Homo sapiens: one gene and its partners. The protein of the gene in region 3 purifies or fractionates together with the protein of the main gene of each other region. This does not show direct contact. Each region holds a gene or a part of one and is shown on either strand. Other genes may lie near its edges.

Region 1 (4,403 bases), on a different chromosome or scaffold from region 3:
GAGGTAGGGATCTAGGTTCATCTTTCCCATGTGAGTAATCTGTTATTCCAGCACCATTTGTTGAAAAGACTTTAATTTCTCCATTTCATTCCATTGATGCCTTTGTTGAAAACAAGCATAAGTCTGGGTCTATTTCTGAACTCTGTTCTCTTTCTCTGTCCTTATGCCAAAACCACATTGTCTTGTTTACAACAGCTTTATAGGTAATGTTAAAATCAGAGCATGTAAGTGCTATTTTCTGACTTCAAAATTGTTTTGGCTATTCTGAGTGCTTTGCATTTTATACAGTATTTATTTACACTATTTATTTATTTATTTAGAGATGGAGTTTCATTCTTGTTGCCCAGGCTGGAGTGCAATGGTGCAATATCTCAGCTTACTGCAACCTCCGCCTCTTAGGTTCAAGCAAGTCTCCTCCCTTGGCCTCCAGAGTAGCTGGGACTACAGGCACCTGCTGCAACACCTGGCTAATTTTTTGTAGTTTTAGTAGAGATGGGGTTTCACCGTGTTAGCCAGGATGGTCTCAATCTCCTGACCTCATGATCCGCCCGCCTCGGCCTCCCAAAGTGCTAGGATTACAGGCGTGAGCCACCGCGCCCGGCTGGAAGCTATTCTTTTGTTGTTGTTGTTGTTGTTGTGTCACTATGTTAACCAGACTGGAATGCAGTAGATACTCACAGGTGCAATCATAGTAGACTATGATAGCATTGCCCAGGCTAGACTCAAACTCTTGGACTCAAGCAATCTCTTGCCTCAGCTCTTGAGTAGGTGGGACTACAGGCACATACCACCATGCCTGGCTCCTTTAGTATTTCTTGTAGTGTAGGTGTGCAGGCAATTCATTTTCCTTCATCTAAAAATGGCTCTTCACTTTCACTCTTGTTTTTTTTTTTTTTGAGACAGAGTCTCACTCTGTTGCCCAGACTGGAGTGCAGTGGCATGATCTTTTTTTAACTTTTTGCTACAATTTGCTAAGGTGTAATTTTTCCCTTGTCTATCTTGGTCTTTGAACTTCTTTTCACACCAAATGTGGAAATTTTCTTCAGTTTTTTTCTGCCCCATTCTCTCTCTTCCTTATGTATGAGATTCCTATTCCATGCATGCTAGTCCTATTTATTTTGTCCTGCAGACCACCAAGGCTCTGTTCATTTATATTTTATTTTTTTGAGACGGAGTTTCATTCTTGTTGCTCAGGCTGGAGTGCAATGGCGTGATCTCAGCTCAACGCAACCTCCGCCTCCCAGGTTCAAGCGATTCTCCTGCCTCAGCCTCCCGAGTAGCTGGGATTACAGGCATGCGCCACCAGCCTGGCTAATTTTGTATTTTTAGTAGAGATGGAGTTTCTCCATGTTGGTCATGTGGGTCTCAAACTCCCGACCTCAGGTGATCTGCCTGCATTGACCTCCCAAAGTGCTGGGATTACAGGCATGAGCCACCACACCTGGCCTATTTTTTAATTTAATTTAATTTAATTTAATTTTTTGAGACAGAGTTTTGTTTGTTACCCAGGCTGGAGCGCAATGGTGTGATCTCAGCTTGCTGCAACCTCCACCTCCTGGGTTCAAGCTATTCTTCTGCCTCAGCCTCCCAAGTAGTTGGGATTACAGGCATGGGCCACCACATCCAGCTCATTTTTGTATTTTTAGTAGAGACAGGGTTTCCCCATGTTGGCCAGGCTGGTCTTGAACTCCTGACCTCAGATGATCTACCCGGCTTGGCCTCCCAAAGTGCTGGGATTACAAGCGTGAGCTACCGTGCCTGGCCTGTTCATTTATTCTTCATTATTTTTCTCTGTGTTCTTCAGGTCGTGTATATGATCTATCTTCAAACTTCCTGACCCTTTTTCTTCTGTCTCCAAGATGCTGTTAAGGCCATTCAGAATTTTTTTTTCTTTTTTTTTAGAGATGAGGTCTAACTATGTTGCTCAGCCTAGTCTCAAACCCCCAGCCTCAAGTGATCCTCCCACCTCAGCCTCCCAAGGTGCTGGGATTACAGGTGCGAGCCACCATGCCCGGCCCCATCCCAGTGAATTCTTAATTTCAGATTGTGTACTTTGCAAGTTCTAGAATTTCTATTTGGTTCTTGTTTATATTTTTTCCTTTTACTCCTGAGATGTCCACATCTATTCCTCTATGAAGATTATATTTTCCTTTGTATCTTTAAACATATGTAAAATAGAGCCTTTAAGATCCTCATCTGATAATTCTAGTATTGCAGGGTCTGTTGACTGTTGTGGTTTTTTTCCACCCTGGTTGTAAGCTATATTTTCCTAATTCTTTGTGTATCTAGAAAGTTCTCATTGCATGCTGAACATTATAGTTGCTACATAACTGGACATAGAGATTTTATTATCTTTAGAGAATATATTGAGTTTTGTTTCCACAAGCAGTCAAAATACTGGCAAATCACCTTGATCCTTTTGAGGCTTGTTTTTAAGCTTATTAGTTTGGGTCTAGAGTAGCTTTTACTCTATGGCTTTGGCCCTACCCCTAAACTGTGGTCTTTCTGAGATGTCAATGGAGTGTCCAAGGAGTTCAGTAAGGTTTCCACTCGCTTGTCCAGAACTTTTATCTCCTAGTAATCTATAAAATCTCCAGTTCACCTCTCCTTTGCAGCTCTTTTCTACTAGGCCTTGTAAGCTGTTATCTACAAGCTTAGTATTTGATCAAAGACTTAAGGGGAACCTTTTGCAGATTTCTGGAGCTCTTTTTTTCTTCTCCCCCTTATTCTGCCCCACAAACTCCAGCCATCTCAGAAGCCCCAAATTCTCTGCTTCTTCAGATCACTGAGACCACTGTTTCCAGCTTAGGCTCTGCCTCTCCATAACACAGTTTGGGAAGTGCCCTGGGTAGAGACAGTGACAGTGGGGTTTTCCCTTCTCTCAAGGATCTCAGTCTTACATGAGTATTAGTCAAAACCTGACATACATAAAACAGTGGCTTTATATATTTTCACAAGTTTTATGCTTGTTTATAGTAGGAAATCTAATCTTTGTCAATTACTCCATCATGACCTGAGCCTTTTTTCTTTTCTTTTTTTCTAAAGAAGAGCAATTTATTTTCTTACAGTTCTGGAGGCTGGAAGAGTACCATTCAATCCACAGTACACCTTGGAAAGGGCTCGGGATCTGAATTTTTAATGACCACCTCTAGTTATGGTTGAGGCAGTTGGTCACACAGTGTCTTCCATTGTCTGCCTGTGTTTTTATAGCCTTCTCTGTTGTGGCTGTAAGTCGAGAAGTGGTCAAGATGCCTTGAGCTTCTCATTGCTTCCCATATCCCTAAGCCCTTCCTTCCTTCCTAGCATTCATGCACACAGTTCCCTCTTGGAATCTTGTACTTTTCCCCATTACCTTTTTCACATATTTATGTGTTACATAAAACCAGAGCCATTGCTGCATGCATTTGAGCAAGGTGCTTAACTTCTCAGGGTTTGATTCTTTAACTCTAAAATGTCTATTCTGTTTCTTAAGTTTTACATGTATACTAAAGACAAGAGTGCTTTTGATTTCCCAGTTGCTTTGCCATTAAACTTAGACCACAGGACCCTTCAGCATGAATGACCAATAACCCAATTGTGTAGTACAAAAAGTACAGCTAGGTACCAAAAAAACAACTGGTTTATCTCTGTCACTACCTCTGCCACAGAAGCACTATTTGTGGGCCCTGTTTCTTCATTTGGTAAAATGAGGGGTTGATCCAGAAGAACTCTGAGGTACTTCCCACTTCTAACATTCTCTGATAATCAAGAGTTCACAAAGAAGAGAATACTTACTTCACTTCAGTTAATCAAAGAAGAGATATAAAAATCCTTAAGACAGTCTCTGGCCATAAGGACGAAAGCACCTAAGAAGCAGATTAGTATATGGTCTTTTTAACCTTTTTAAAGCTAATACAGTTTCAGCCATGTCTGCCTTACCTGTAATACCCATATGACAGTTGTGAAATGCATCTGTAAGACCATCACAGAGTATACTGTCAGTCAGTGGCATCTCACCTATCTTTACTCCTGTTCTCAAGTAAGCCAAGTGAGGAGCCTAGAAGTCAGAAATAAAAATGGATTTAGGCTTAGTTGCAATTAGTCTTCTCCCCAGAATACAACTCAAAACTATCTAGTATTTCCTAAGTCTTCATCTAGGCCCCTTTGCAGCCCTTCTCCCCAGTTCTAGGTCCTCAGCCAGGCCAAGGTCTAAAGACCCCTGGAATTAGCAGACTTCATCTTTCCTATTGTTGGGAACGATTACTCTCCTACCTACCCATTTTCAATTCTCCCTCAAACCTACCCATTCTGTGTCCTGTTTCCTTAAGAATTCCATTTATTCTTTCCATCGAGGCAATTAATTATCTGTTAAATGAAGAAATCCTCTAAGGGCTTAAGTAAAGCTAACAATGTGTTACCTATTT
Region 2 (4,403 bases), about 87 Mb from region 3:
AGCACTGGCAAAGCTGCAATTGGCCACGCACACTCATACACAGTTTATGGTAACATAAACTGGCATAGACTTTATGAAGATGAATTTGACCGTATGTGTGAAGACGTTCTACTACTAAACTATCCAAGAAAATAATTTAAAATGCAGTAACACTAAGTAGTCAGTGAAATATTAGAATCAACTTAAGTGCTCCAAAATAGAATGGGGGACAGGGAGGAAGGATGCTTACATTTATTATCATAAGCCTAAATAAAATGAAATTCTCTTTGAGAGGCCGAGGTGGGCGGAACATGAGGTCAAGAGATCGAGACCATCCTGGCCAACATGGTGAAACCTCGTCTCTACTAAAAATACAAAAATTAGCTGGGTGTGGTGGCACGCGCCTGTAGTCCCAGCTACTTGGGAGACTGAGGCAGGAGAACTGCTTGAACCCGGGAGGCGGAGGTTGCAGTGAGCTGAGATCACTCCACTGCACTCCAGCCTGGCGACAGAGTGAGACTCTGTCTCAAAAAATAAAATAAAATAAAATAAAATTCTACAATCAACATTTTGGTAACAGAAAAATTCTAAACAATTCATTGAAATTGTTTTGATTATCCAAATTTTTTTCAGTAAACATGAAAAAATCTCACAGACGGGAAAAGCAAAGTTTGTGTGTAATGCTGTTTCACCTACCTTGGTGGCTGTTACTGACGTAGGCAAGTTTGTGGTTTTGGAAGAGGATCCATTAGAAGTTGCTGGTGGTATCTGAGCCACTACAGATTTACTGTTTGTTCCATTAGCAGCACTGGCAGAGTGGGAGAAAGTAAATTTGAAGCCACCAGGAGATGTCCTTTTGGGAAGGTTTTCCTTGTCTTCACTTTCTTTTGCTAAAGCAAAAGTAAAATTTTGAACGTATATCAATAAATACTGCTAAGTCAAAACATCTAAAAACAGCAGTAATTAAAAAACTTATAAAACATTGCTGCCCGGGCATGGTGGCTCACGCCTGTAATCCCAACACTTTGGGAGGCTGAGGCAGGCAGATCACCCAAGGCCGGAGTTCAAGACCAGCCTGACCAACATGGAGAAACCCCGTCTCTGCTAAAAATACAAAATTAGCCGGGTGTGGTGGCGCATGTCTATAATCTTAGCTACTTGGGAGGCTGAGGCAGGAGAATCACTTGAACCTGGGAGGCAGAGGTTGTGGTGAGCCGAGATCGCACCACTGCACTCCAGCCTGGGCAACAAGAGCGAAACTCCGTCTCAAAAAAAACCAAAAAAACAAAAAAAAATAACACCAAAATTAATTGCCTTTGTTTCCTAAGAACTTTTGAAAAAGAACATGATGTGTACAGTGATGATATGGTCTGGCTCTGTGTCCCCACCCAAATCGCAAATCAAATTGTAATCCCCACATGTCAGGGGAGGGACCTGGTGAGAGGTGACTGGATCATGGGGGTGGATTTCGCCCTTGCTGTTCTTGTGATAGTGAGTTCTCACGAGATCTGGTTGTTCCAAAGGGTGGCACTTCCCCCCTTGCTCTCTCTCTCCTGCTGCCATGTAACACATGCCTTGTTTCCCATTCACCTTCCGCCACAAGTTTCCTGAGGCCTCCCCAGCTATGTGGAATTTTAAGTCAATTATACCTCTTTTCTTCATAAATTACAGTCTCAGGTAGTTCTTTAGAGCAGTGTGAAAACGAACTATACAGAAAATTGGTAACAGGAATGTGGTACTGCTATAAAGATACCTGAAAATGGCAGGGCGCAGTGGCTCACGCCTGTAATCCCAGCACTTTGGGTGGCTGAGGAGGGTGGATCACTTGAGGTCAGGAGTTCAAGATCAGCCTGGCCAACATGATGAAACCTATTCTCTATTAAAAATACAAAAATTAGCTGGGGGTGGTGGTGCACACCTATAATCCCAGCTGCTCTGGTGGCTGAGGCAGGAGAATTGCTTGAACCCTGGAGGCAGAGGATGCAGTGAGCTGAGATTGTGCCACTGCCCACCAGCATGGATGACAGAATAAGACTCCATCTCAAAAAAAAAGATACCTGAAAATGTGGAAGCGACTTTGGAACTGGGTAATAGACAGAGGTTGGAACAATTTGGAGGGCTTAGAAAAAGACAGGAAGATATGGGAAAGTCTGGAACTTCCTAAAGACTTGTTGACTGGTTTTGACCAAAATGCTAACAGTGATATGGACAATGAAGTCCAGGCTGAGGAGGTCTCAGATGGAGGTGAGGAACTTATTCGGAACTGGAGTAAAGGTCATACTTGGTATGCTTTAGCAAAGAGACTGGCGGCATTTTGCCCCTGCCCTAGAGATCTGTGGAACTTGAACTTGAGAGAGATGATTTAGGATATCTGGTGGAAGAAATTTCTAAGCAGCAAAGCATTCAAGTGGTGGCCTGGGCTGGGCACAGTGGCTCATGCCTGTAACACCAGCACTTTGGGAGGCTGAGACAAGCGGATCACGAAGTCAGGAGTTGGAGACCAGCCTGGCCAACAGGGTGAAACCCTGTCTCTACTAAAAATACAAAAATTAGCTGGGCGTGGTGGCACACACCTATAGTCCCAGCTACTTGGGAGGCTGAGGCAGGACAATCAGTTGAACCTGGGAGGCAGAGGTTGCAGTGAGCTGAGATCATGCCACTGCATTCCAGCCTGGGCAACAGAGAGAGACTCCATCTCAGAAAAAAAAAAAAAAAAAAAAAAAAAAAAAAAAAGAGGCCTTCTGGCGGTTTCTAAAAGCGTATGCTCATATGCATGAAGAAAGAGATGGTCTGAAATTAGAATTTATATTTAAAAGGGAGCAGAGCATAAAGTTTGGAAAACTTGCAGCCTGACCATGCAGTAGAAAAGAAAACCCCATTTTCTGGGGAGAAATTCAAGCTGGCTGCAGAAATCTGAATAAGTAACAAGGAGCCAAATGTTAATTCACAGGCCCAGAGGCCTAGGAGGGAAAAATGGTTTTGTGAGCTGGGCCCAGGGCCCTGCTGCTCTGTGCAGTCTTGGGACACCCTGCATCCCAGGTGCTGCAGCTCCAGCCATGGCGAAAAGGAGCCAAGGTACAGCTTGGGCCATGGCTTTAGAGCGTGCAAGCCCCAACTCTTGGTGGCTTCCATGTGACACGGGGCCTGTGGGGTAGAGGCAAGAACTGAGGTTTGGTAACCTCTGATTCTCAAACCACCTAGATTTCAGAAGACATATAGAAATGCCTGGATATCTAGGCAGAAATCTGCTGCAGGGGCAGAGCTCTTATGAAGAACCTCTACTAGGGCAGTGCGGAAGGGAAATGTGAGGTTGGAGCCCCCACATAGAGTCCCCACTGGGATACTGCCTAGTGGAGCCATGAGAAGAGGGCCACCATCCTCCAGACCCCAGAACAGTAGATCTACCAACAGCTTGCACCATGCACCTGGAAAAGCCACAGGCACTCAACTCTAGCCCATGAAAGCAGCCATGGGGGCTGTACCTGGCAAAGCCATAGGGGCGAAGCCAGCCATGGCCCTGGGAGCCTACCTGTTGTATCAGCATGCCCTGGATGTGAAACATGGAGTCAAAGGAGATTATTTTGGAGCTTTAAGATTTAAAGACTGCCCTGCTGGGCTTTGCACTTGCCCAGGGCCTGTAGCCCCTTTGTTTTGGCCAATTTCTTCCATTTGGAATGGGAGCATTTACCCAATGTCTGTACCCCCGTTGTATCTTGGAGGTAACTAACTTGTTTTTTATTTTATAGGATCACAGGCAGAAGGGATTTACTTTGTCTCATATGAGACTTTGGACTTGGACTTTTGAGTTAATGCTGGAATGAGTTATGGGGGACTGTTGGGAAGGCATGATTGGTTTTGAAATGTAAAAAGGACATGAAATTAGGGAGGGACCGGGGTGGAATGATATGGTTTGGCTCTTGTCCCCACCCAAATCTCATTGTGAATTGTAATCCCCAGGTGTTGGAGGAGATGACTGAATCATGGAGGCAGAAAACCCCCTTGCTATTTTTGTGATAGTGAGTTCTCACGAGATCTGGTTGTTTCAAAGTGTGTGGCACCTCGGCCGGGCTTGGTGGCTCATGCCTGTAATCCCAGCACTTTGGGAGGCCAAAGTGGGTGAATCATCTGAGACCAGGAGTTCAAGACCAGCCTGGCCAACATGGTGAAACCCCATCTCTATTAAAAATATAAAAATTAGCTGGGTGTGGTGGTACATGCCTGTAATCCCAACTACTTGAGAGGCTGAGGCAGGAGAATTGCTTGAGCCCAGGAGGCAGAGGTTGCAGTGAGCCGAGATCACGCCACTGCACTCCAGCCTGGGCAATGAGAAGGAGACTCCATCTCAAAAAGCAAACAAACAAACAAAAGTGCATGGCACCTCCTCCTTCACACTCTCTGTCTCCCGCTCCACCATGGTTAAGATA
Region 3 (4,403 bases):
CGAGGTCAGGAGTTTGAGACCAGCCTGACAAAAATGGCGAAACCCCATCTCTACTGAAAATACAAAAATTAGCTGGGCATGGTGGTGGGCACCTGTAATCCCAGCTATTCGGGAGGCTGAGGCAGAAGAGTCACTTGAACTCGGGCGGTGGAGATTGCAGTGAGCCAAGATCGTGCCCCTGCACTCCAGCCTGGGCAACAGAGCAAGACTCCATCTCAAAAAAAAAAAAGCGAGTAAATCTTACATTTTTAAAAGAAAATCTGTAATCTTTTTTGCTTCAGGCATCTCTATTTAAACTGCTTTTTTTTTTTTTTTTTTTTTTTTGCCACTTCTGTGGTCTCACCTCCTTAGTAGCAGCTGCTCTGTGCATTTGCCTCTAGTCAGCAGGCCAGGCAAGCTGTAGGTGATGCCATTGGTACTCAGCTGGTCAGTCACCAGGAAGCAGACAAAATACTTAAGATAGGAAGTACATGCTAGGTCTATTAAAAATTCAACTCATACTTTGTCATACTATAAATCACTCTATAAATGAGTTTTCACTTAATGCTGAGTATCTAAAGATGAAGAAATGCAGAATTCAATTTTATCAGTAGATCAAATTTTATACAAGTTACTTTAAGGAGGCCATTTTATTCCTAAGACTCTTGAAAATTTTTTATACTGCCTGTAATGAGAGCTTTTTTTCCTACCCACTACTAAATCACAGTTAAATTGTTTTGAAGTCATGTCTCTTTGTATGTAAGTGTTTGTAAAAAGTGTTTTTAGTATTTATTTGAAAAAAAAGGGCAACATTCAACAGTCACAATTTGTGTTTAAAATCTTTAAATAGCACTTCTATTTCATTCAGCAATCAAGCCATGTATTTAAAAATGTGACAATTGAATTTTATTCTGAACATTAATAAGTTATGGGATTAATATACATGTGAGATCTAGTTAATATATTCAGTTATTGAAGCTAATGAATGGAACTAATTAAAATATATTTAGCACTGTTATCAGCAGTCTCTAGGAATTTCTAACAACGACTTCCAACTGCTTTGACGGATAACTCTGAAAGTGGTGCATTACAAAAGATATAAAGATAATGTCTTCTTAATTTAGATGTTAAATGTTAAGCACCAAAATAAAGGGAGGCCAATAAAAAATCATATTTTAAAATGTTATGCAAGTAATCAGCAGTCCCTGCTTCCTTAGTATACACGTATGTCTCATTAACCTTCCTAGACATGAGACAGCAAGATACAGAAGAAAGACCATGGGTTTCCATCACACAATCTGAGGTTCAAATCTTGGCTAGGTCATTTAATTGTTACACAATCTTGAGCAAGTTACTTGACATCTCGCTTTAAAAGTGCTAATTTAACATAACAGCACCCACCTTACAGGTTCAGTGTGAGAATGATGAATATAAAACACCAAATGGATTGGCACACATTCTGCTATTAAATGATGGTTTCCTTACCTTTCTACTCTTCTCAATTAATATGATATTATAAAGTGGTTGAGAGACACTTTCTTTTGTTTCCCATTGAAACACAAAATAAATTTGTTTACTTTAGGTTTTATAAGTAAATCTCATACTTAAGTACTTTGATTGCTAAAGCCATTTGTTAAATGTTTTGCAGGTTTTCTTTAACTTAAAAAATATAGTAAATGCCTACCAAGTTAGTCTCATAGAACTCTCAGTCAAATAAATGAAGGTAGGAATGAGCAGCTTTAAGTGTAACTATGAAGAAGCAATCAATACTATGGGAATCAAATGGGGATATAGCAGATGTAGATTTATCCATTATCAAGATTATTCTAACAAATTTTTACCCTCTTGCTGTAGTTCCTCCTATTATCAACCAAGGTGAGGCAAAGTTCTTTGAAATGTAGACTTCGATAGGTCTCTCTGGTGGTCTGGTCATCTGTGAATAAAACTGAAGAGAGAGGCAGAGAAGAAATTAAAGGTGTCAATCAAGAAAGAGATAGGAAATTCTAAGAACAAAGGGCATGACACAGTCACTGGTAGATTTGGACATGTGAGGCAAAAAAACGTTTTCAGAAATAAAGCATGGTGGGAATACAAAATGATGGTGGGATGGAGCAATGAGAGTCAATCAGGAGGTTCTGAGGTAAAATCTTCATAGTCATGTGATAAGGAAGAAGAAACAGAAATTGTGAAAAATATTTTAATTTAAGAAATGTATGTATACCAAAAACAGCATGAATCATAAGCAAATAGCTTCATGAGTTATTTTGAGGCCTTATAACCATCACCCCATCAAGAAAAAAAAAGTATTTCCAATACTCAGAATCCTCAATCGTGTCTTCTTCCAAATACTACCTGTTACCTTCTGTCTCTGTCCACTTGGGCTGCTATAACAAAATACCTTAAACTGGGTAATTTAAAAACAACATAAATATATTGCTCACAGTTCTGGAGGCTGGGAAGTGCAAGATCAAGATGCCAGCAGACTTGGTGTCTGCTTAGGGCTGCTGTTTGTTTCACAGATGACGCCTTGTTGCTTTGCCCTTCCTCACATGGCAGAAGGGCTAAGGGAGCTTTCTAGAGCCTCTAATACAAAGGGACAAATTCCATTCATGAGGAATCACTTAATCATGACTTAATCATTTCCAAAGCCCTGACCTCCTAATACTGTCACATTGGGTATAAGGTTGTGACATATAAAATTGGGGTCTGGGGAGACCAACATTTAGACCGTAGCATCCCCCTTTCAAATTTATAATTCCCCTAACTTCTAACCACATAGTCAGCTTTGTCCATTTTGAACTTTATATAAATGCATTATTTTGTCTAGTTTTGAACTTTATATGAAGGTATACACAGGTTGAATATTCCTTACCTGAAATACTTGGGACCAGAAGTATTTTGGATATTTTTGGATTTTGGAATATTTGCATTATACTTACTGCTTGAACACACCAAATCTGGAAATCTCAAGTGCTCCAATGAAATTTTTATTCTTTGAGCATTCTGTCAGTGTTCAAAAAGTTTTGGATTTTGGAGCCTTTCAGATTTCTGAATTTGGGATTTTAGATGCTCATCTTTTATAAAGTTTTTTTTTGTGTTTGGCTTATTTGCTACTTTTATATGTGTGAGATTCATTCATGCAGTACCTAGCAGTACTTTTGTTTGTTTTTTTTTTCTATTTCAGTGTATTTTTACATAGTATGAAATAGATCACAGGTTTTTTCCGTTTTATTTAGGGTAGATATTTGGATTTTATTTTCATTTGAGAACTACTAATATAATAATACATGCTACTCTAAATATTCACATAAATTTTGGGGGGTATACATTCATATACATTTCTGTTAAGTATATACCTAGAATTAGAATTCCTGAACCATAAGGTATTTGTATATTTATTTCTAATCAATAATGCCAATCCTCCAAAAAAGTTGTTCTTCTACCAGCATATATTAGACTTTCTGTTTCTCTACAGCTTCACCAATAGTTACTGTTTTCAGTCTTTATAATTTTAGCTGTTCTAAGTAGTTTGCAGTGGTAATGCGTGGCAGTTTTATTTTGCAGTTCCCTGATTATTGATAAGATTGAGAATCTTCCAAATACTTGTTGATTTTCTATATATCTTTTATGAAATGCTTGTTCAAGTGTCTTGCCCATATTTCTATATGGTTAGCTTTCTTTTCCTGGTTTGATTGTAGGTGGTATAGAAATTGATTTTGAAGGAGAGAGAAAATACAAGATTTCAAGTGGTCATCAAAGAAGAAAACTAATTAATAAAAAGAACAATTGATAATATGACTTTGATTCACACAATAGATTTAAGATACTGAGGCTTTTCTTAACTGAGGAGGCCTGAGATTGTAGCAAGTGGGGGAGGCCAAGGAAAACAGGTTAGAGAGCTCAATAACAAGGGAAGGCCAGCATGTGGCAAGAGACATCAGTTTGAAGATGCTTCTTCAAGATGAAGATGTGCCAACCCATCTTTTTGGAGCTCTGTCTTACTTCCATGTTTCTATATTTTTCATATTCTGTTACTTGTTTCTACTAGGAACTTCTTTCCTACACCCACTAATTGTAGATGTTTCTGATTGTCCCCTGCATTGTATCTCTAGTGATTTTTAACCACTGCCATAATTCAGCTACCACTGTCAAGTGCAGACTCCAGGCTACTCATACAATAGGAAATAGCCTGCATCTTCCCACTACATCCGGATGTCCTATATGTACCTTGGGATCAATATGCTCCAAAGAGATTTGTGTCATCCACAAGATGTCTCTACTGTATCATCATGTCACCATCTTTCTGGACCAGTACACTCAGCTTTTCTGTTCTTGACCTTTTTAACCTATCTCTTATTAATTTCATCCTTTCAGGGTCTGTCTTTCTTTTAATATTTCTGAATCAAAGATGAATGTTTTCAGCT
Region 4 (4,115 bases), about 89 Mb from region 3:
TTGCTGACTTACCTTTCTATGCATAATAGCATGGTGACACAAGAAGATCGGTGAGAACAAGCAGTTGGTCATCAGTGAATTGCTGTTTATGTTCCTGCCAGTTGTCATGGTGAGTCCTTCGGAAATTGGATAAGGTTTTTTTTACAGTCATCTGTAAAGTAGACAACCCACATACGTTTTAACCTCTCTGGACAACCAGGATCATATGTAGGATACTTTTAGTTAAATTACCGTCCCTCTAGACTTCAGATCTCACACAATACCAAGTTCTACAAAACCAAAAAGCCAATGAGAAGGACAAAGTGAATGGTCTTTTGAGTTACTAAAAATGCCATCATAATTTCCTATTTAATATTAGCTTCCAGTAAAATACTTTGCAGTGCTAGAAAAATAGAAACATAAAATTTATCACAACAATATTGACAGTACTTTACTTCCATTGGACTGGGAGGGATAGAAGCTACAATAATTTCCTCACTACCAAAAGATCTCAAATATCCATGGCAGCAAGGTCTCTGTAATTTTTTAATAATTACTGGTGAGCAGACTAAGCCTTGGCAGAGGCAGCAGCTTTATGAAAGCAGTTAGTTCAGAGTGTATAGGAAATTATTATTATGGTTTCTTAGAAAACATCACTGATAATACACGTACAAACTAATAAGGAAGAACTGTACCTCAATAGGCTGAGGATCATTTAGATGTGCACTGAGATTCATGAGGAGCTGGGGCATCCAGGTGGGAACATCGTAAGGACTAGAAAGAACACATGCACCAAGTCCTAGCACCCCAGCATGGCGTTTGACCAACTCTGCAAAGAGAATAGCAACATTTGTGCAAATATATATATGTCTCTAATGCACTTGTTACAGTGAGATAAAATTAGTTTTCAATTGTGTTGTTTTCAATATGTGAATTTCTGCATTTAAAATGAATCTACATGTAAACACATCAAATACTTGATTTTGAGGCTAAACTAAAAATAATTCTGTATTTAAGAATTTGTCAGCTGGGCACAGTGGCTCATACCTGTAATCCCAGCACTTTGGGAGGCCAAGGTAGGAGGATCACTTGAGGCCAGGAATTTGAGACCAGCCAGGGCAATAAAGTGAGAACCTGTCTCTCCAAAAATAATTTTTAAAAATCAGCTGGTGGCCAGGCATGGTGGTTCATGCCTATAATCCCAGCACACTGAGAGACCAGGGCGGGTGGATGACCTGAGGTCAGGAGTTCAAGAACAGCTTGGCCAACGTGGCGAAACCCTGTCTCTGCTAAAAATACAAAAATTAGCTGGGTGTGATGGCATGTGAAGTCACAGATACCCAGAAGCTGAGGCATGAGAATCATTTGACCAGGGAAGCAGAGGCTGCAGTGAGCCAAGATCGCACCACTGTACTCCAGCCTGGGATACAGAGTGAGGCTCCGTCTCAAGGAAAAAAAAAAAAAAAAAAAAGCTAGGCATGGCAGTGCATGCCTGTGGTTCCAGCTAGACAAGAGGCTGAGGCAGGAGGATCGCTTGAGCCTGGGAGGTCAAGGCTGCAGTGAGCCATATTCAAAACCACTGCACTCCAAGGAGGGCGATAGAGGAAGACCTTACCTCAAAAAAAAAAAAAAAAAAAAAGGATTTTTAAAGACTTCCATAGTTGCTTATCAATGACAGCATAATTGTACCTAGGCCAGTACAATCCCTGATTCTAAAACAATCTCCAATCAAAATTAGCGTGGTTTTTTTTTTCTGGATGTGACGCCCCTACCCAGAATACATCAATTCATTAGTAAACACATCATGTATGAAGAATGTCTATTTCTTAAAACAGAGAATTGCAGCATGTCTGTATTCTAAAGAGTCTCTATTCTTTCTGTAGTAGTGTAAGTTAGTTCTGTAGTGGTGTAAGTGGTTTCAAATTCTCAGTTCCTCAATAAAGGTGTGTGTATTCACATGTTTTAAAGCATATTACATTTGTATTTGTGACACATGGAAAATAGGGAGTTGAAGGTAAGGAAAAGAGAATTTGGACTGGTCAAAATTGTGAACAATATCATTTGGTGTAACAAAAGACCTAAAAATACTTTGGTGCTTTATCATTAAAAAAACAGAGTTCTCAGGCCAGGTGCTGTGGCTCACGTCTGTAATCCCAGTATTCTAGAAGGCCCAGGTGGGTGGATCACTTGAGGTCAGGAGTTCAAGACCAGCCTGATCAACATGGTGAAACTCTACTAAAAATACAAAAAATTAGCCAGGTGTAGTAGCGCGCGCCTGCAATCCTAGCTACTCGGCTAACAGGGGCATGAGAATCGCCTGAACCCAGGAGGTGGAGGTTGCAGGGGGCTGAGATCATGCCACTGCACTCCAGCCTGGGTGACAGTGGAAGATCCTGTTTCCAAAAAATATATATTATAAAATATATTTATAATATATATATATATGATATATATTATAAAATATATTTATAATATATATAATATATATTATAAATATATTTATAATATATATAATATATATTATAAAATATATTTATAATATATATATAATATATATACATACATATATATATCCCAAAAAGCAAAGATACTAGAATGTACATTGATATTTTATTGGATTCTGTTACTAGGTAACTTTATGACATAATTAAGACACTAATCAGCAGTAAAAGCTTTATATTTAAGCACTTCCTCTAAATTCAATAAAATTCCTACTTACTATTAATCTTTTTATGTATTTTCTATTATGATTACAGTTAACATGGCAAGATGCATCTTTGTAATCACATTTACATTTCTTTTTAAACATGACATAGTAGTCAGATCTTATTCTCGTGTTTATCTTGTGTCTATATTCAATTAGATTGGAAGCTCCTGCAATGACTCCGCACCCTCTCACCAAAGGACTAATGAAGGACCGAATAATCCCCTCTCCAAATAAAAAACAAGGCTTGCTTTAGTTTTTTCTGTTAGTACATCTACATTTAAGTTCTAAATTCCAAAACAGGTTTTTCAGACCCTCCAAAATAACTAATTCTGAATATCTCTTTTTTATGAAGCTATTCTGGGCGGAGGGTAGACTGAATACAATAGTTGTTAGGTAGCAGTTCTACAGGTTCCTTTCTATCTACCTCAATTTTAGCTTTTCTACATTCCAAGTCCTGCTTTCTATATGCAAAACTCCTCAAAAGTAGGGAAAACTTTTCCCAATACCTAGCATAGACCTGGGCACATACATACAAGTTATTCAATAAATATGAGTAAGCCTGGTTAACCCTCATTAATTCCCAATAGGATACAGGTGTTTCCTACCAGCAATGTTACCTGCAGAAGGAATGGTATCTCCTACAGAACCAGGGTCTCGCTTTCTTTTCTTAGGTAGTTTTGTTTTGCAAAGTTGCTCAAAATGAATCTGCATAGGACTGTCCATGGTAAGAAAGTTACACTGTAGCAGACCGCTTAAGGTAGTAGCAGCCATTTCTCGAACCTGTAGATATAATAATTTCTATTAGGACTGACATTCTAAGTCTGAGGGAATAATGGAGGATAGGGGGTAGTGTGGGAACTGGGGTGAAGACCTTCCCTGAAATTGCATGCAAATTTTGTGTATGCTCTTTGGCAGTTTCTTAATAGAGATTTCAGCAGATTCTCAAAGAGTTTGTGGCCTCATAATGGATAAAAACTACATTAGGGTTATGAGCATAAACTTTTATCTCTTTTAGCAAAATTAAATTTCTCCATAAATTATTTTCCCTACTGATAGCTCTCATCAGGGCTATAACTGTAAAAGCAGTGCCAGAACCTGACATTAAGATCAAGTTTTTCCAGACTCTACATCTCTGAAGGCCACTGCTATAGCTATTTTTGTTAGTAACAAAGACACAGACCAACCTAATTTCTGTAATTGGCATACATCATGGAGACTTACATCCTATGTGATTCTTATGAATTTCACAGGCTGCTGTCAGATCACAAACACAGTTTACAAAAGTACTAAATGAAGCGTGTACACAGTCCATTTCAAATTGGAATGGTAACTCAACTTTTGGGAAAACAAAAAAGCGGTAAAAAGACATTGTTTCACATATAAATCACAAACATTTGTTTAATATTCATAATACACAATGATAATTTTA
Region 5 (4,403 bases), on a different chromosome or scaffold from region 3:
TCCAAAAGGACAAGGCCATGGAAACTGGACCCAAGCCACTGAGTAAGGTCAGAGCCTGGGAATAGGTGTACGGAAGCCAGATGGCCAGGGAACAGAGCTCCAGCAAAGATACAGAGGTAAATTAATAAAGGGCAGGGCAATGTGGCAGGGTCTTGGGGAATGGGGTGGTAGGAGTGTAAATATCTTGTCCTGAAAGATGTATGGCCTATATTCAGTGCTTAGTAGGATAGCAAGCAACCAGCAGGTCTTAGGAGACTCTGGCCATGAGGTTCTTAGCAGCTGGGAAGACTGATAACCCAAGACAGAGTTCCAGGTTCACATTATTCAGATGCAGGGCAGTTAACAAGGCCAAGAATTAGATGGAAAGAAACCAGGCCGAGGTCTAGGTACAGGTATACAAGGTGGGAACCAGGTTAGGAGAAGAAAAGATAGGCCCTTAAATTGAACTGGGACCCCAGTCAGAGGAAGTTCATAGCCATGTGGTCAAATGTCATCTCTCCCAGGCTGATGTTCCAAATACCCACTCCATGAAGGACAGGATTGTCCTATGAATGTGACATGATACTCAGCAGGCCAATGGACGAGAGAAGCCAAGCAGATGGCTACCAGCTCTGAACATTCACATTGCAATTAGCGTCTACAGCTCCTCACAGAAATATCACCAAGCCTGCCCCATCTGAATCATTTTATCAAGCAATTTGAAAAAGAAAACTTGAAATAATCAGTATAATTCCAATTTTGTTAATGTAATAATGCAAGAATGGGTCCTAACATATTAGTGATTATCCCTGATTAGTGGGGTTAAAGTTAATTTCAGTTTAGTTGTGAGCTACAGTGTTTTTCCTACCATAAATGTGCATTATTTCTGTGAGCAGGAAAAAAAATGGTATGCTTTCAAACTTGCTATATTCGTAGGTTTATGTGAACATGTTTATATAATATATAAAAATCTCTCCTTTAAATAGCAATCTATTTAAGAATAAGGGATTCTCTGGATAGGAAAGGCAGTACAGATAACCCAGGAGATTTCGTCTAAGCAGTAGTTCCTACAGTTCAGAACTCTTACAATTACCCAAAGAGCCTGTTAAAAATAAAGTCTCTCCAGAGATTCTGATTCAGCAGGACTAAGTGGTGCCCACCACTTGATTTTTTTTTTTTTTTTTTTTTTTTTTTTGAGACGGAGTCTCGCTTTGTCACCTAAGCTGGAATGCAGTGGCACGGTCTCGGCTCACTGCAAACTCCGCCTCCCTGGTTCAAGCGATTCTCCTGCCTCAGCCTCCCGAATAGCTGGGAATACAGGTATGCGCCACCATGCCCAGCTAATTTTTTCTTTTTTTGTATTTTTAGTAGATGGGGTTTCACCGTGGTAGCCAGCATGGTCTTGATCTCCTGATCTCACGATCCACCCGCCTCGGCCTCCCAAAGTGCTGGGATTACAGGCATGAGCCACCTTGCCCGGCCCCACTTGAATTTTTTAATATTCCCCCTAACCAGGTGACTCTGACAGATCGTATGAGACTCAAACTTCGAGAACACCTGAACTAGTTTATAGTCAATTATGCTGACAAAGATGACCATTTCTGTGTCATTTACATCTCTTTCACACCAGTTTAACTGCCACAGTGCTGAAAAATCATTCCTAGATACAATGATTTCAAATCTTTGGAAATATCACATAAAATAAAAACAAAAACATATAAACACGGGATGGGGAACAAATAAAAAGCGTTAGGTACTAATAGTGAATTGGAGAGAATCTTACAAGGATTATTTTAAATTATGAAATATTCTGAACAAACAATAGAGTGTAGAAAATACTGGAAGACATCCAGATTTAGGAAGTATCTAACAAAAGTAACATGATTTGGTCTTTTTAAAACTTACAGCAATTCCCGCACAAGATTCTCTGTATTGTTAATAATCTTGGCAAAATCTGATGACCTGTGACTCATTTCTGTGAAAGGAAAGATAAACAACAATAACAAATATTCCAGCTCAAAACCAAATGAACAGAAATACCTACGAAATTTGCAAGTAAACAACAATACAGGGAAATTTCAGTTATTCTGCATTCAAATTGTGGGCCAAGGCTCACTTAGTTTAGGGGACCATACAAACTGATTTTCAAATTGCAAACATTTTAGCTTTATAGTCATGGCAGAAGGATTTTTCAAGTGGTACATTCACTGAGCAAGTTATTTATTAATTCATCACTCCGTGATGCTCTCTGTGATTCTTCTTACCATCTCTTTCTCACAAACAGGAATCCATGTGCAACAGTTGCCCTTTAGGTCTGGAGCACAAAATTCCATGCTGTGATCTCACTTCACAGAAATCTAAGTATATGTCCCAAACCAACAGGAGCAAAATTTAACAGAAATAAGCAATATAGTTAACCCTATGGTCTCTTAATACCATGCAGTCTTCAGAACCGCCAAAAATAAAAGAAAATAAGTTTTAGAATGCAGAGGTCCTCTTCCCAAAAAATATAGGGGAAACTTAATAAGATTATCAATGTGCGAGGTCTTCATAAAAGGCTTATGTACTTTTAAACTTTAATGAGGTTGTATTTAAGTATAATAAAAACTGTAAATTGAATGTAAAGCAATATTATAAATGTTTGGAGGCACTGTTATGCAAATATACAGTATCTTCTGATCCTAAATCCTATGATTAGCAAAAACCAATTATGACAGGGTAAGCTGAGATGTCAGAACCTCTCACCAGCATTTATGCTATTTTCAAAATGGTTTCTATCAGACATGCAACCCAAGCTATTAAAGTTTAAAAATGTATCTATAAAGGCCTATAGGAAGACCCTATAGGCCCTGTAATTCTATATTTGATGCATTTAAATTAGTTCCCTTTGGGCCAGGGCTCAGTGGCTCAAGCCTGTAATCCCAAAACTTTGGGAGGCCAATGTGGGAGGATGGCTTCAGGCCACGAGTTTCAGATCAGCCTGGGCAACAAAGTGAGATCCCATCTCATGGGATCTTTAAAAAATGTTTTAAACATTTAAAAAAAATTAGCCAGGTGTGGTGATGTGTACCTATAGTCCTAGCTACTCAGGATGCTGAGGCAGGAGGGTCACTTGAGCCCAGGAGTTGGAGGCTGCAGTGAACTATGATCACGCCACTGTACTCCAGCCTGGGTGACAGAGCAGGACCCTGCCTCTAAAAAAAAAAAAAAAAAAAAAAGCTTCCTTTGAAACATGGACATTCACAGAATTCAAAAGTAAATCTTACCAAGAACACTAATGCCAACTCCTTTGTAGTCTAATAATTCCTTTTGTATCTCTAACAACACCTAGAAAAAAATAAAGGAAAATAGGGTTATTTAAATATGTTCTGCACTGCTTTCCCTCTGAACATACAAACCTGACGAGGGGACAAGGAAGGGTCTACAGTGAGGTCCCCAGGCTTCCATCCCCACCCACAGCCAGTCTCCTTCCTTCCCATGTCCACAAAGCCAGCGATTATGCAACTTACACACAAGGTAAGCATGAAATTAGGCAATGTGACTGATGTTGATACACTTTTTCCAAAGGCCCGAATTTACCGATTCCCTAGAAAATGTCCCCTTCACAAATCTCATTCACCACTCTCCTAAAGCTAAAGTAAAGAATGCATAAAGTTCTGGGTTAAAGGGACAACGATAAAAAAATTATGCCCAGATTATACAGGTAACTCAATTTTCCGATCTCTTTTGGTCTAAGGTGCTAGACTGGGAAGCGTGGGGTGGGCAGGAAGAAGGAAGAGCCTGCTGTGAATAAGATTCGTCCCAGGGTGCTGCAACAAGACTGGCACAATGTTGATAATTGTTGAGTCTCAGAGATGGGTCCTTGGAGGTTCATTACACTACTTTTATCTTTGTGTATGTGAGGATTCCCTTAATAAAAAATAAAGAGAAAAAGAAAAGCTTTAAAAATGAACACAAAATAAGTGCAAAAGCAACCAGCCAGAGAAGGTCTACAGATAGGAGGCACCTTTTTTTTTAAGATGCTTGCTAAGGAGGGCATCATTAAAACACAGCTATAACCTAAACTGGATTGCAACTTGTCTCAAAAAACAGTATTTTAACAATAAAGAATTAGACAAGGCCGGGCGTGGTGGCTCACGCCTGTAATCCCAGCACTTTGGGAGGCCAAGGCGGGCAGATCATGAGGTCAAGAGATTGAGACCATCTTGGCCAACATGGTGAAACCCCGTCTCTACTAAAAATACAAAAATTAGCTGGGCTTGGTGGTGGGTGCCTGTAATCCCAGTTACTCAGGAGGCGGAGGCAGAAGAATCGCTGGAACCCGGGAGGCGGAGGTTTCAGTGAGCCGAGACCAAGCGACTGCACTCCAGCCTCGTGACAGAGCTTGACTTCTCTCAAAAAAAAAAAAAAAAAAGAATTAGATT
Region 6 (4,403 bases), on a different chromosome or scaffold from region 3:
AAAGAAGAACAGAAAAAGGAGACAAAGAAGGGCGTTGTGATATTTTGCTCTTCGAAATGTCTCAGCAGATGCTCTTGCTTTTTCTTGCTTTGAGCTATTCTTTAAAAACAGACAAAAAAAAATGACAGAAACTAAGAACATGTAAGTACCGATAACAGCATAAGCCCACAGTAAATTCTTATCATTAGGTACTCCAAACAGAGCTTCTGAGTCAGCATCAGATGATTGGTTGAGTGCAGGATGGAAGTCAGACTCTGTGTGGTTTTCAGCAGACGCTGTCGGACCCAAAGCCAGTTTAGCTAGCAGTGGAGCCAAAAAGGCACCCAAGGCAAAAGAGAAGTGTAAGGCCTGCATATGTGGGGCTCCTTTGTCCCCCCAAATAGCCAAGATAAGGACGTTACCACCTGTCGATGAAAGATGGGAAAAATTATTTAAGTTAAACAGTTACTTACTTATTAAAAAAAAAAGTTCACTTATCAGAAAGGGGGTGAGTCTATTTTACATAGCACAAGCATTATAATATTCTAATTATCAAACATTGCAACTAAATCAATTCTGAGAAAGGAATTCTAACCCACTACCACCAGACAACTCTAAGCATTATAACATCACATACTCACAAATCGAATTCTACAGTCTAGTAGACTACTACCTCCTAGAACCAAGCACATTAGCAAGACGCTTTTTATAATACAGTTCTAACATCAGACTGCAGAAGAAATATTTATATATTAATATTTTAAATATATATTTAAAAGGCAAAATTTTATCATCAGATAGTAGCCAAATTACCAAAGCTTTCTGTACTTGCTGTTGGTAGCCACTTGAGGAAAATTACTTACTTATGTATGTAACAGATGCAAAACACACGTCCAGGAACCTGAATAGCCAGGATTCTGGTATGCCCATTAGAGGAAACAAGGACACCGTTTAGCATCTGAATTTATACTGTCTAAACGTCTAGGAGGAGAAAGGCAAGAAGCAGCACATCTTGAGCTATCTTCTTTTTTTTCAACAGATATTTTCAGATAAATATATAATTCTACCCTATAATTTCATAACAAAATTAACCCTAAAGTAAAATAAAATATTTCCTCAACAGATCACGTAACAGCAAAGCAGGGAAGGGAGGGGTAGAAAGCTGGTTTTAGGAGTAAACAGATGTCATCTATGTTATTTAGTAGGTTTTCTGTTTGTTTGTTTTTGAGACCCTGGCTGGAGTGCAATGGCACAATCGTGGCTCTCTGCAACCTCCACCTCCTGGGTTCAAGCAATTCTCCAGCCTCAGCCTCCTGAGTAGCTGGGATTACAGGCACGCGCCACCATGCCTGGCTCATTTTATATTTTTAGTAGAGACGCGGTTTCTCCATATTGGTCAGGCTGGTCTTGAACTCCTGACCTCAGGTGATCTGCCCGACACAGCCTCCCAAAGTGCTAGGATTATAGGCGTAAGCCACCCCGCCGTTATTTAGTAGGTTTTTTTTTTTTTTTTGAGATGGAGTCTCACTCTGTCACCCAGGCTGAAGTGCAGTGGTGTGATCTCTGCTCACTGCAAGCTCCGCCTCCTGGGTTCATGCCATTCTCCTGCCTCAGCCTCCCGAGTAATTGGGACTACAGGCGCCCACCACCACACCCGGCTAATTTTTTGTATTTTTAGTAGAGATGAGGTTTCATTGTGTTAGCCAGGATGGTCTCGATCTCCTGACCTCGTGATCCACCCATCTCGGCCTCCCAAAGTGCTGGATTACAGGTGTGAGCCACCGCACCCGGCCTATTTAGTAAGTTTTAAAAGACATGATGATGATACGGGAAAGAATCTACTGCAGGAGGCCAGGAACTTTGAGGACAGAAAGAAAAAGAAAGAGCCTAGTCCACACTATGGATCTCTCTTGGCTTGGAAGTCAGGGTAAATGTCAAGTTGGATTGCTGCTTCTATGCTTTCTCAGCCAAATAACAGTTCCAAACTTGGTTTAACCTATTAAACCACCAATTCCTCCCATACTAGAGCAATAAAGTTCTACCCCAAGATGAAGGCCTATTCACCTGCACTGTAATTACCCACACAGGGGCCCTTCCCTGTTTGGACAATGTAAATCAATTATCTCTCATAGAACAAAATTCTTTAAGTTCATTTCAGAGTTGGCTGCTCAGAAACAGGCCCCCTAATTGGCAAGAATAGCTGCTAGAAGGGTGATTCATTCTGAGTGACTCACAACCAACTCAGTAGGTCTGTGTCATTTTAGGGGGCATTGCAAGTGACAGTTTAGTATCATCTGCTGTACTTCTTCTAGCAAGTCCCTACTCCCAGAGATGACGTTGAAGAGCTCACTAACCTGTATCCAGAATGCCAATTGAAACACCGAAGATAGACATCATGACAGTGAGTAATATTGCTGTCTTGCAAAAAGGAACAAGATAAAGACCAACGGTGGTAGCCGACATTGAGATTCCTGGGAAGGTAGAAACTCAGCTATAAAAAATAATATCCATGCAGTCATGGATCAAGTCAATATCATAAATGTCCAAACATGCAAAATCAGGTCAAATTTAAATTAGATAATGAGTAGATGAGAGTTTTTGCTTCTAAAAGTGATTATTTCATTTGAATCTTTTATAATCTTTATGGATTATGAAATATAAATAATTATAACACAAATACATTTAAAGCACTGCTAGTAATCAAACTGTAAATTATACCATAAGGCAAAGTTTTATACCAAAAGAGACAAGCCAAAACTAATTTAAATGATTCACATTTAAGAACCTAACAGGAATTTTTAGACATGAGGCAAAAAATTAAATAGACAAAAATAAAATGCAATTACTAGAGTAGTTTGTAATAAAATTTACTAAATAAATTAGTTTGGGAAATAGGGAGGAAAATACAAGAAATATGTTATTTCAACCCACTTTGGAAATAAGAGGGATTATTTATTAATTCCTTAACAATAACAAATTATTCTTGCTTCCAAAACAATTTTATCATATTAATCTAAATTTTCTCTAAATATTTCAATTTATTCAAAAAAAGTATATGCTAAAAGCTTTGCCAGCCCAGGCGTGGTGGCTCACACCTGTAATCCCAATACTCTGGGAGGCTGATCCTTTGAGCTCAGGAGTTCCAGACCAACCTGGGCAACATGGTGAAACCCCGGCTCTACTAAAAACACAAAAATTAATCAGGCATGGTGGCTCACACCTGTGGTCCCAGTTAATTGGAAGGCTGAGATGGGAGGATCGCTTGAGCCCAGGAGGGGGAGGTTGCAGTGAGCAGAGATCGCATCACTGCACTCCAGCCTGGGCAATAGAGGGAGAGGAGACCCTGTCTCAAAAAAAAAAAGCAGCTTTGCCATCTATTTCCAGGGTGAGACAGAGCACTCTGGGGTTGTCCAACGACAACATGGGGCAGCAGGAACAAAAACATAGCCTACATCAGTCCACCCAACCTCGCTTCCCCTCTTCATTCCCAATCCAGGGTGTAGCCTGGGCAGGTTCAAAGAGCTCATTCTGATCTGTGGTGACCCCAGGAAATCTGCCCTAAACCCTCTAAGCAGAGTTTTTTGGACAACCAGTGTGTGATCCAGGAGTGGTAGCTAAATTATAGTGGTTGGAAAGGCTAAGGATTGCTAAGACACTCTAGAGCTAATCTAAATTTCCAGAGGGACCCAGCACAGATACCCTCTAACTGTCAAGATGAAAGCAGGTACCAGGGAAACTCAACTGCCATTGAGGACACCTAAACACTACCCATTTCAGTGGCCAACCATTCTGCATGCTAGTATTTTCATATTTTCAAAGACAACTTGTAAATTCACTTGACAGTCATAAAGAAGCTAAAATTAGCATTTACTTACCCAAAAGTAAAAAATAATTCATGACATCGACAAGAAATCCACCAATCACAGAGCCACTCAAATATCCCAAGGCACGACCCACAAAAATGAAAGACAGACTACTGATATTTCGGTTCACGTTTGTTGCCAAATCTTGAAACGTGGGTCCCACTATAGCAACACTCAATCCCTAAAATTTAAAAAGACAAAAGTTTTTACTTATAATCATTAAAATAATGTCTAACTATGTGGTAGTTTCTTCCACTATAAAAAAAAAGGGGGGCGGAGGGTCTGGGATTTACAATGTAATGTAGGGAATTAGACTACTGTTTTTTTAGTTTTGACTAAAACTCTTATTTTTTTTTTGTTTTGACACCTCTCAGTTTTTAAAAAATTATTTTTTTGTTGCAATCCTGTTTCCTTTCTGAACAATACCTTTAAAAGACTATTCTGTATTAATAAAATGTAATATTAAAACTATTTTTGAAATGGTTTCGTACATTTTGAAATATATTACATGCACAAATAAGAATTTGGGTATTAAAAATTTAAATTGGCCGGGCACAGTAG
Region 7 (4,403 bases), on a different chromosome or scaffold from region 3:
TTCAGTTTCTGTACTTTGAATTAACAAGATTCCTTCCCCTCTGTACACAATCAGCTGCCCACCAGCAAGGTCGTTGGGGGCCATTTTGGATTTGCTAGAGTCTGTAGCCAAATAGCCTTTTCTCTTCCCGTAGGCTTCTCTGAACCCCAAAGCCGTCTTGTAACCTGTTGTTCCATTAAAAGAAGATCCTAATCACAGCAGTTGGTTTGTGGAGGCAGATTCTCTGAAACCGGCCTAAGGGTAGTCTTGCCTAGGGAGACCACACAGCCTCCCTCGTCAGAACCCTGGGGGCCTGGGTAAGTTCCTGAGAGTGGGATCATCCTTTGATAGCAATTTCTGGTGATTATATAGGATTATTAGTATGAGCACTTAGGAACTGAAATGATCCTTTAGTTCCTATAGGGGACTAAAAGTCTTACTCAAAGTACAGAAAAAAATGGCCTGACTATGGAAAATGAGATGGCAGGACCAATTTGGGACATCCCTCTCCAGAATTATGGTAATGAGCGTACATTTACACTGCTTGGGGCATTTAAAGCATTTATTGGTTTGGGGCATTGATAGCCATAGACTAGTTAGGTGGGATCACACATCTGTGATTGCTGACTGCTTCTTATATGTAGCACTTAGGAATTATAGTTCTGTCATGATTGGGCTAATGGCTGGGAGCTGACAAGTCAGGAGCTCTTCTCTCTCCTTTGCATCTTCACTAGGGTACGAGTGAGAACGTAAGAGAGAGTTAGGGAAGCACAAGGCATCACTGAGCTTCCTGTAGCGTCTGGGGAAACAGGAGGCAGATAGGCTTCCTTCACACACTGAGCGAGAGTATGGCCACAACTCTCAATGCATGTCCTGGTCTGGAAGGGTAATGTGTGCCAGGAACTCTCAGCTTTGACGTAGCCCAGGAAAACCGACGAGGTCTTCTCTTGTTCTAAGATGAGACAGAGTGGTTGGATGACCTCTCAGTAATGAAGTCATGGGATGAGAAAGAGAGAGAGAGCACACTGGAAAACCCCACTGAGGGCAGATCCTGCGCTAAAAGTAAAGATGGGGCTGAACATCCAGGAGGCTGTGATTTGGACTCTGGTCAGCATCCCTTCAACTGAGAAAGGCAAAGCAAACCCTCGAGATGTTCATGAGCATCATTGACTCAATGACCCATCATCTTCACTTTCTGAGGCTCAGGTCAGGTTAGGGAAACAATTGGCTGGAAAAATACTGTTTGCCTAAATACAGTCATGTCACTCAGGATGGACTAATGAATCAGAGTTTCCTAGAGGGGTTCTTCATGCCTGAAGGAAAAACATCCAAATAGCCCATCATTTGTGCCCACTGATCCAAATGTCTTCCAGGTCCATGAGTGGGCAACCCCACCTTGGAGGCAGTCGCTTTGCAAGGCATCAAGAAGCCCTTTAGGAAACTAGGATTCACTAGTCCATTATGAATTGCATGACTGAGCAGAAATGGTATGAGACCCAGATAAGTGGACATTTCCACATAAGAGAACATTTCCAGATAAGAGAAACCCACAATATGAATAGGATTGCTGCATCTGGGTGTGTGTTGTGTGCACTGCACAAAAGCATCAGACTAAAGGGATGAATGGTACTAAAGCCCAGTCCCCTACTCTACCCCCCAAATGTGTGGCTGGTGCAGGGCTGCATCTTCATATCTTCATAGAGGAACAAGGGTGGTTTTTTTTCCTAATTCACACAAAGGCCTTGCATAGGTTGGTAAACAGCCTTGGGTAAGTGGGTAGGGGTGGGGATGGTAATCCTCCTGCCCTCAGAATTAGCCAAGAGGTCCATTAATAAGTGAGGCTGGAGATACTCATTGGTGACTCCAATATACAGGACAAAGAAATCAGCCCAGGTGGGTGAAGACTGTGGCAACTAAAGGGAGTACTTTGCTCAAGTTCTGAGCTAGTAACAAATATGGCTGGTTGGGGACAACCTTTGGATAACACCACTCCCTGACTCCCATAAGCCAGGGGCCTCTCTGCATATGACTTTTTATAAAGTGGAAAACTGGAGAGAGCAGGGCCCTGAGCTGAGTCCCTGTGGACAGGACCCCAGAGGCCACCACACCCCTGATGGGGGCTCGGGGGACACTGAACTTGTTTTGATGGCAAAGATCAGTTTTTCTCACTCAGCAAAACTTCAGCCGTAGCTACATTCTATCTTTCTCCTTCTGTCTTTCACTCTCCTCGATACCATTGTGTCTAACATATCACACTTTATACACATTCCAATGATCAGCGCCTGTCTTGTTTTTAACTCTGCCTTCTCCTTAAAAAGAATAAAAAATAAGAATTATTTTTGCTCAATTCACAAATAACTGTTACTTTCGATGGGCAAACACATGGTTGTGTTCTAATCACGCGACAGGCATTGATTCTCAGGTGTGGTTTATCATCTCCAAAACGGCATGCCAAAATGCTGCCAAGTGGCTTACTGGAAAAAATATTGGCAAATGGAGGTGCCAGGGGTGATGCTGCATAACATGGGGAGATGCTGGGTGTGTAGGTGTGAGCCACTGAGGTGCTTAGAGGGTGGAGAGTCTAAGAAGCCATGTTTCTCTGTGAGAATAGTGTATGTAAATGGAGGCTAGAGACCAGAATTACTTTACCTTTAAGAGAATTAACTTTATGCTTCTACGGATAGGTAAGCCAGTTACACAACTCATCCCCCCAGCAATCCATCTGCTCTCTATTACTATCCTTCTGGTATTAAAGAAAAAGAAAAAATGGAAAAGGGGCCACAGATTGGTTAGGAAAAAAATGAATGTTTGTTCATCCCTACAGGTAAACTTCAACACATTCACCAGTGATTGACACAGATACAGGAGAAAAGGTCCCCTAAATTGGAAGGGCTAGGAGAAGGCTCTCATTTGAAGCCTGACTGATGATCATATCTTTGCTTTAGAAGCAATCTGAATTTGTTGTTTTAGATTTGGGTCTCTTAAATGAGCATATAGTGGATTGGTAGATTTTGTCCTGATCCTAAGAATTTTCAACAACAGCAAACTTGGTTCTGTTGTAATAGCAATAACAGTGCAAAACATTTGGCTTTGAATCCAAGATCCAGGGATATTAACAGCTTAATTAGTTAGGTCTCTTTCTTTTTCAAAATGTTTATTTACTGGAAAATATAGAGACAGGAGGCTGCCTCTTTGATTTGTAAGTGAAGGGCAATCAGCATATTAAAACGCTGATTCCAAGCAGCTTCATTCATGCAGAGGAAAAACTCAACCTGGTTGGCATTTGTTAGGTGGCTGCCAGAGTGTCAGCGTGTGCACAAAAGAGCTTCCAGCCCTCTGCCTTTACGAAATGAGTGAGAACTGCCTCTACCCTTCTGTATGGAGTATTTTTCCCTATCATCTGCACTCCAACACAAAAGACATACACAAGTGACAAGTAGAGTGTGTTCAGCAAACACTCGCGTGGGTCACATGCTAAGTGGTTCTACTTGTTCTTCCCCATCCACATCAGAGTGTGGGGCACCCACTTGGCTAAATTCTACCAAAACTGCTGATGTATAGAGCAGAGTCACTGGGAGAAAAGAAACCAGACACCTAGAGCACCAAGTTTCAAAATGATTTAACTTTCAGAAAATTCTTAAGGCAAACTTTATCCTTTGAAGTGGGGCTTCAAAGAAGGGCTGGTGAAAGTGACTGAGTAGCCAGGGAAAAATCCTGCAGGCTCACGAAAGGAGCTGCTGGCTCCCCTACAGTGAGGTTCAGCAGTGGAAATGTCTGCAGCAGCTACCCAGGGCCGGGCATCATCCCACTGTCTAATACAGTGAAGAGCCCAGTAGAATAGCTGCAGCCTAATACAGCAGCTGAGCCAGTGCTCCACGCAGTTCAGGTGTAAACAAAAGGGAAAGCCTGGGAGATGCCAAGTGAGAAGCCAGGCTGCCAGATATCCATTTGCTTTCTTCCTTTCTTTACCGCCATATATTTTGAAAGCAACTTTCAGCATCTGGGCTTCAACTCCAGAAATCCTTTAACTTAGCCAGCTAGGATATAAAAGGCAATAAAACAGCAGGGAATTCTTACTGTGAACTTCATAGCATTCAAGTTTAAGGTGACCAGATGGTTTATCACCCAAACTGGGACACTTTCAAGAGTGAAAGGCAGGCTGGGTGCAGTGGCTCATGTCTGTAATCCCAGCACTTTAGGAGGCTGGGGTGGGAGTATCCCTTGAGCTCAGGAGTTGAAGAACAGTCTGAGCAACATAATGAGACCTCCTTTCTACAAAAAAGTTAAAAAATAAGCCAGGTATGGTGGCATACGCGTGTGGTCCCAGCTATTCAGGAGGCTGAGGCGGGAGGATTGCCTGAACCCAGGAGGTCGAGGCTGCAATGAGCCATGATTACATCAATGCATTCCAGCCTGGGTGACAG

Evidence for each region.
Region 1: the proteins of KYNU (region 3) and ACAT2 fractionate together in Homo sapiens (co-fractionation; one large-scale study listed by BioGRID). This does not show direct contact.
Region 2: the proteins of KYNU (region 3) and PPP4R3B fractionate together in Homo sapiens (co-fractionation; one large-scale study listed by BioGRID). This does not show direct contact.
Region 4: the proteins of KYNU (region 3) and PSME4 purify together in Homo sapiens (affinity purification with mass spectrometry; one large-scale study listed by BioGRID and IntAct). This does not show direct contact.
Region 5: the proteins of KYNU (region 3) and PSAT1 fractionate together in Homo sapiens (co-fractionation; one large-scale study listed by BioGRID). This does not show direct contact.
Region 6: the proteins of KYNU (region 3) and SLC60A2 purify together in Homo sapiens (affinity purification with mass spectrometry; one large-scale study listed by BioGRID and IntAct). This does not show direct contact.
Region 7: the proteins of KYNU (region 3) and PALM2AKAP2 fractionate together in Homo sapiens (co-fractionation; one large-scale study listed by BioGRID). This does not show direct contact.

Annotation. Positions count from the first base shown.
Region 1 is NC_000006.12:159,768,144-159,772,546, reverse strand, and holds part of ACAT2 (acetyl-CoA acetyltransferase, cytosolic), read right to left. Parts: intron 4,037-4,403; coding exon 3,919-4,036; intron 1-3,918. UniProt on the Homo sapiens protein: Involved in the biosynthetic pathway of cholesterol.
Region 2 is NC_000002.12:55,558,100-55,562,502, forward strand, and holds part of PPP4R3B (serine/threonine-protein phosphatase 4 regulatory subunit 3B), read right to left. Parts: intron 870-4,403; coding exon 676-869; intron 1-675. UniProt on the Homo sapiens protein: Regulatory subunit of serine/threonine-protein phosphatase 4 (PP4). May regulate the activity of PPP4C at centrosomal microtubule organizing centers.
Region 3 is NC_000002.12:142,960,976-142,965,378, forward strand, and holds part of KYNU (kynureninase), read left to right. Parts: intron 1-4,403. UniProt on the Homo sapiens protein: Catalyzes the cleavage of L-kynurenine (L-Kyn) and L-3-hydroxykynurenine (L-3OHKyn) into anthranilic acid (AA) and 3-hydroxyanthranilic acid (3-OHAA), respectively. Has a preference for the L-3-hydroxy form. Also has cysteine-conjugate-beta-lyase activity.
Region 4 is NC_000002.12:53,866,073-53,870,187, forward strand, and holds part of PSME4 (proteasome activator complex subunit 4), read right to left. Parts: intron 3,467-4,115; coding exon 3,304-3,466; intron 809-3,303; coding exon 675-808; intron 152-674; coding exon 17-151; 3' UTR 13-16; intron 1-12. UniProt on the Homo sapiens protein: Associated component of the proteasome that specifically recognizes acetylated histones and promotes ATP- and ubiquitin-independent degradation of core histones during spermatogenesis and DNA damage response.
Region 5 is NC_000009.12:78,299,505-78,303,907, reverse strand, and holds part of PSAT1 (phosphoserine aminotransferase), read right to left. Parts: intron 3,307-4,403; coding exon 3,246-3,306; intron 1,955-3,245; coding exon 1,885-1,954; intron 1-1,884. UniProt on the Homo sapiens protein: Involved in L-serine biosynthesis via the phosphorylated pathway, a three-step pathway converting the glycolytic intermediate 3-phospho-D-glycerate into L-serine.
Region 6 is NC_000006.12:111,261,877-111,266,279, reverse strand, and holds part of SLC60A2 (sodium-dependent glucose transporter 1), read right to left. Parts: intron 4,024-4,403; coding exon 3,855-4,023; intron 2,451-3,854; coding exon 2,334-2,450; intron 405-2,333; coding exon 1-404. UniProt on the Homo sapiens protein: May function as a sodium-dependent glucose transporter. Potential channels for urea in the inner medulla of kidney.
Region 7 is NC_000009.12:110,157,433-110,161,835, reverse strand, and holds part of PALM2AKAP2 (PALM2-AKAP2 protein isoform 3 (PALM2-AKAP2)), read right to left. Parts: intron 1-4,403. UniProt on the Homo sapiens protein: Binds to regulatory subunit (RII) of protein kinase A. May be involved in establishing polarity in signaling systems or in integrating PKA-RII isoforms with downstream effectors to capture, amplify and focus diffuse, trans-cellular signals carried by cAMP.